Regions from separate parts of the Homo sapiens genome. Here region 2 is linked to region 1. A link means that fine-mapping ties the variant in region 1 to the expression of a gene that starts in the linked region. Tissue or cell type: whole blood. Region 1 holds a variant in brackets; the other region holds the start of a gene. All regions are shown on one strand. Distances are between the middles of the regions.

Evidence for each region. PIP is the estimated chance that this variant, and not a neighbour inherited with it, causes the effect.
Region 2: it holds the start of SLC29A3, and the variant in region 1 is fine-mapped to the expression of SLC29A3 in whole blood (INTERVAL, PIP 0.91).

The regions. Positions count from the first base shown.
Region 1 is chr10:71,368,874-71,371,630 of GRCh38, reverse strand. It overlaps a transcript of SLC29A3 not described here. Among named protein-coding and RNA genes, the nearest start is that of CDH23, 27 kb to the left of the region's middle. The variant G/A (reference allele first, on the strand shown) is at 1,128.
Region 2 is chr10:71,317,680-71,320,436 of GRCh38, reverse strand. SLC29A3 (solute carrier family 29 member 3) reads right to left here and starts at 1,178. Exons shown (of 6, transcript NM_018344.6): 1 at 1,127-1,178. The coding sequence starts at 1,127. LOC124902445 (a long non-coding RNA gene) reads left to right here and starts at 774. Exons shown (of 2, transcript XR_007062183.1): 1 at 774-875; 2 at 1,533-2,468. RefSeq lists a silencer at 932-1,381.

The DNA of each region.
Region 1 (2,757 bases):
CTTCTAAGTCCCTGCTCTTAAGCACTGTGCTCTGTCCATTGCTCTGTCCAGGAACACCATTAAACAGGACGGGTCACTGTAGCTTGGCACCCAGGGGCTCGGAAACCTTGGAATGCAGACCTCTTTGACTATCTGATGTAAGCTATAGCCCCTCTCCCAAAGCACAGAAACTTCTGCATATGATCTCAGGGGTTCCATGAATCCCTCTTTCCACCCAGAGGCCCCAGATTAAGACCCACATAAGACTCTTAGAAGGAAGTAGCAAGGACATCAGAAGTCTAGAGCCATGAGAACATTCTGCCCTGGTTAAACTCCAAGGAGTGGGGCGGGCTAGTGCAGTAGTGATGGAGGCCGTTGGGTGAAAGTGCTGGGAAGAGGACCTCACATCCTTCACCCTGGAGTGAGTGCATAGGAAGTGGGCTAGGAACGTGGGGGCTTTTTCCAGAATCGGAACAGCAATCAGTAAGACCTAGTGCTTGATGGATCAGTATTCACTACACTTTACAATAATCTATCATACATTTCAAAATAGCTAGAAGAGAATCATTCGGGCCAAGCGCGATGACTCACACCTGTAATCCCAGCACTTTGGGAGGCTGAGGTGAGTAGATCGTTTGAGCTCAGGAGTTCGAGACCAGCCTGGGCAACATAAAGAGACCCTGTCTCTATTAAAAATTAAAAAATAAATAATAAAATAATTTAGATGTTTCTAGTATAAAGAAAAGACAAATATTTAAGGTGATGGCTATCCCAATTGCCCTGATTTGATCTTTACAAATGATATCAGTGTATTAAATTATCATATGTACCCTGAAAATATATACCTCTATTATGTATCAATAAAAAATTACATTAAAAACTGCAAAACAATGGCACTTTTCTCACCAATATTTTGTTTTGGAAAATATAGTTATATTTCATTTTTTTAAAAAGCTGGGCACAGTGTCACATGCCTGTAGTCCCAGCTACTTGGGAGGCTGAGGTGGGAGGATCACTTGAGCCTAGGAGTTGGAGGTTGCAGTGAGCTATGATTGCACTTCCGAACAGCCACTGCACTCCAACCTCAGCAACATAGCAAGACTCCATCTCTTAAAATATATATAATAAATAAATAAACAAATAAGAAG[G/A]ACAGCACTGAGGACGTTCAATCTCCTTGGGCCTCCGGAACTTAAATCTGTTAGAAACTGCTGGTCAGCACAGGCCTGGTGCCAGCTGGTTTACAGTAGCCCAAGTATGGTCTTGCTGAGGGGCAGAGGTTGGACTTGGTGGCCTCAGGGCCCCACCAGCTCTAGGCATATGTTTTAAGTTGGGAACAGAAGGCATGGTTATCCTAGAACTTCATACTTTACTCTTCTCTGTGTCTGCGAAGGTGGACCCACCCACGGTTCCTTGGCACGTTGGAGAGGACAGGCTTGAGGCATGTGGCACCTGAGATCCAGATGGTGAAGCTCTCTGCCTGTATCACATGCTCTGTAAATCTTGCTCTTGCCTTCATGAACCTTATGTTTCAAGTGCCTATAACATCTGCAGCCTTGGGTATTGATGACCAGTGACCCATCAGTGCCACCATAGAAGCACTGAGGGCAGGCTGGGTGGCCCCTGTCCCTCACACCGGACAAGTTCATCCTGACTCTGCTTCTCCCCCTCCTTACCCTGTCTACCCAGCATGTGCTCTGGGCGTCCTCAGATCCACAAACCATGTAAACTGGAAGTGCCCTTCTCAATCTTTTAAGGCAGCAGGGTGAAGAGGAAAGACAGGCTTTGGAGCCTCCTAGCTCTGGTCTGAATTCTAACATGGTCTCTTACTGACTTAATCTTTCTGAGTCTCAGTTTCCTCATCTGTAAAATGGGGATGACCCACCCCACCTGGCAGGGATACTGTACATAGGCAGAGCCTGACCATAGTAGCTGCTCAATGGTCAGTGCCTCCCTTTACTTTGATGTAGACCACACTCATCCTGCTGCAGAAGCAGGGCCTGCTCCCAAGCTCATGGCCAGCAGTGGATTGCAGAGCCCAGGTTGGATTGTTGCTCTACTCTGATCTCCTTAGCAAACAGTCATTTGTTTACGCTACACCTGTAGTGTTCTCATTTTTTGCAATATGAATAGGCTGAGGATTTTCCAAATCTTTAAGTTCTGCTTCCTTTTTACTTCACCATTCCATATTTAAGTCATTTCTCTTTTCTCACATGTTATTAGGAGAAGCCAAGCCACACTTTCAATATATTGCATAGAAATGTCCTCAGCTAAACATCTTGTTTCATCACTCTCAAGTTCTACCTGCCACAAAACACTAGAACACAAACACAGTTCAGCCAAGCTCCTTGACATTTGTCTTAGTCTGTTCACACTACTATAACAAAAATATCATAGCCTGGGTGGCTTCTATACAATAGAAATTTATTCCTCACAGTTCTAGAGGCTGGAAGATCCAAGATCAAGGTTGCAGCAGATTTGGTGTGTGCTGAGGGTCTGCTTCCTGGTTGACAGAGGGCCATCTTCTCACTGTGTTCTCACACGGCACAGGGGTGAGGGAGCTCTGTTGACTCTTTTATAAGGTTACTAATCACATTCATGAGGGTTCTACTCTCATGATCTAATCACCTCCCAAACATCCAACCTCCTAATACCATCAAGTTGGGGGTTAGGATTGGAACATGTGAATTTGGGGAGGACACAAACATTCATCTGTAGCACTAGGCTCCATTCCAAATGTTTTATGTGCATTGCCAGTATATCATCATAACCAGAGATGAG
Region 2 (2,757 bases), 51 kb after region 1:
CTTCCCAGCCTCCAGATCCATGAGAAACAAATTTTGTTTAAGCCACCCAGTCTATGCTATTTTGTCTGGCACAAAATGGTACAAATGTAACAAGCTCACTTGTTACATTTTAAAAATTAGTGTTTAAAATGTAAAAAATAATCATGACCCACCCACATAGAACAAGAGAGAACCGGCAAGTGGTTCTTTCCAGAGGCTCCAGCTACCTGTGGGGGCGGCTAGAAGGTCCACCAGCCCTGTCACTCAGGACCACACCTGGCTAGGGCCCCCTTCTCAGTTCCTAGCGTCTATTTGTCAAGGCTTGACTGAGCTTCTGAAGAAGGAGCCAGGAATTTTCTCTAACCAGGGTCACAGGCCAGGGCACTGGAGTGAGCAAAGTCTTATTAGTCTTTATAAAAGCTAGCTGCTGGCTTCTGGATTAAAAAATAAAGAGAAAGGCAGGCAAGGAAGTGCCCAACCTTCCCCAAAACAAGCTGGCTGTGGCCTGGAACGTGCTCCTGGGTCACCTGCGGGAGCCCGGCCATGCACAGACAGACAGCCCCACACAAGGAGGCAGGCACTGCTGGGGCCGCGGCAAAACCTCATCTGGGCTGGGAAGCCTGGGTGCTGGTTCCAAGGAGGTTCCTGACTCTGGCTAGGTGGCTCGCCCCTCTGTGCCTCGATCTCCTGGGCTGTGAACCGGGGTGGGGAGCTGGTAGGGCTAACCTGTGGGAAGGCACTGGGAAGCGCAGGGCACCGCCTACTGGCCGCGGCAGAACCGGCTTTGCGGTGTAAACAGCCCCAGCCTCAGGCCCCGCAGCTGGGACCGAGAGAATCAGCCACCGTCTGGATACTTCGGGCCGACGGGTCCATACCAGGCCCCCACCATACAGGCGGTGAGGTCCAGTCTCAGGGAGGAGGAGGGGAGAGGATTTGGGGAAGAGAAGATAGAGACCCAGAAAGAGGGGTGGCAGAGAGCAAGGAGAGAGAGGAGGGACGGTGGGGAAGGGACCACGGATGGGGTAGGGTCCTGCGGCTCCCCTGGCAGCCCGCAGCCGCCCCCAGGGCCCGGGAGGGAGGTCGCTGAGCGCGAGTCTGGGGGCGGCCGGGACCGTAGCCGGAAGAGCCCGAGCCGGCCCGCACTTACTGTCGCCGCTGCGCCACGCCGCCGCTGCCTCCGGCGCACGGCCAGGACCACTGGGCTTGGCAGGCGGCAGGCGGGCTCCTCCCCCGGCCCCGCCCCGCCCCTCGCGGCAGCACGCCGCCGCTTCCCCGTTTGCAAACACGCTTTTTTCCTTTGTCTTCTGCCGGCGCGCCGGGGCTCCCCCTTCTGGCGCTGAGCTGGGGCCTGCGTGCGCCCATTTTATAGGAGAAAAAGTGAGTCACCCAGTCTTAAACGCACTGCCCATGCTTGCGATGGGTGCGCTGCGCATCAGGCCTTTTGGTTGCTGCTCCTTCTTTACCTTGGAGCCAGACCCCACTGTCTCAGACCTCCCCTTTAGCTACTATAACCTGCACCCCAGGACTCAAAGGAGCCCTCATCTTGTCCCCAGGCCGCTGCAGAGACCCCTCTCCAAAGGCCGCTTCTACCCTTACCGGCTGCCGCTGCTCTGGAGGTGAAGCGGGACCCACACCCGGACTGAACTGGGCCTCCCAGGCCAGGCAGCTATTTTCAGTAGACCCAGAACATGGCAGTCAGCAATTCCAGCCCTCACACTTGACCTCAGCCATAGCGTGTAACACACAGCTGCCGCGTGTTCTTTAAGAAAGCAGGGGCCGGGCGCGGTGGCTCACGCCTGTAATCCCAGCACTTTGGGAGGCCGAAGCAGGCGGATCACCTGAGGTCGGGAGTTTGAGACCAGCCTGGCCAACATGGCGAAACCTCGTCTCTACTGAAAATACAAAAGTAGCCGGGCATGGTGGTGCGTGCCAGTGATCCCAGCTATGTGGGAGGCTGAGGCAGGAGAATCGCTTGAACCCGGGAGGCGGAGATTTCAGTGAACCGAGATGGTGCCACTGCACTCCAGCCTGGAGCCTGGGCGACAGAGCAAGACTCCATCTCAAAAAAAAAAAAAAAAAAAAAAAGGCGGAAACCTTCCTGACTCCCGGTCCTGGCCCAGTTGGCCTATTCAGAGCGGGGATCTGGATGCTTCACAGGGCCTGAAGATCTGTGACCATGGATAGTAAATTCTTGCAGTTGCCATCCCAGGGCTCAGGGGTGCCACAGAACCCATTGAGGCTGTCAGTGTGTGGACAGGTTCTCAGAACATCCCCACTCCCTGCCCCAGCCTCTCATTTTATAACCACCATTCCCCAAACACTGGCCTGATCATAAAAGTCTCGAGTACACATCCAGATTCTGGGGACCTCTCCCCAGGAGGGTTGCTGCCACTCCCCAATCCCTGAGGGTGGTGCTGTATCTGCTTTGTTTGCTCTTCCCTCATCGTGGGCACATAATTTGTGTTCAATAAATACCTGGATTAATACAACCCATCACTCAGGGGGTGCAGAATGGGGATCCAGAATGGATCTATTTAACAAGCTCCACCAGCAGGCGAGTTTGGAGACTAGCACCCTAAATTGTCAGAAAGCCCCCCGGCCCAGGAGAGGAAGGGGCTTAGCTCCAGGCTTACAAGCTGAGGGATAATGGTAAAATTACTAAACCTCTCTGAAACCCAGGGTCGGCTTAGGACTGTCGGGAGAATTAAGTCAGGTGATCCATGCCAGGCACTCAATGCAAATTTCCATCACTTCCAAGGAAGACACTCCCCACCCCCA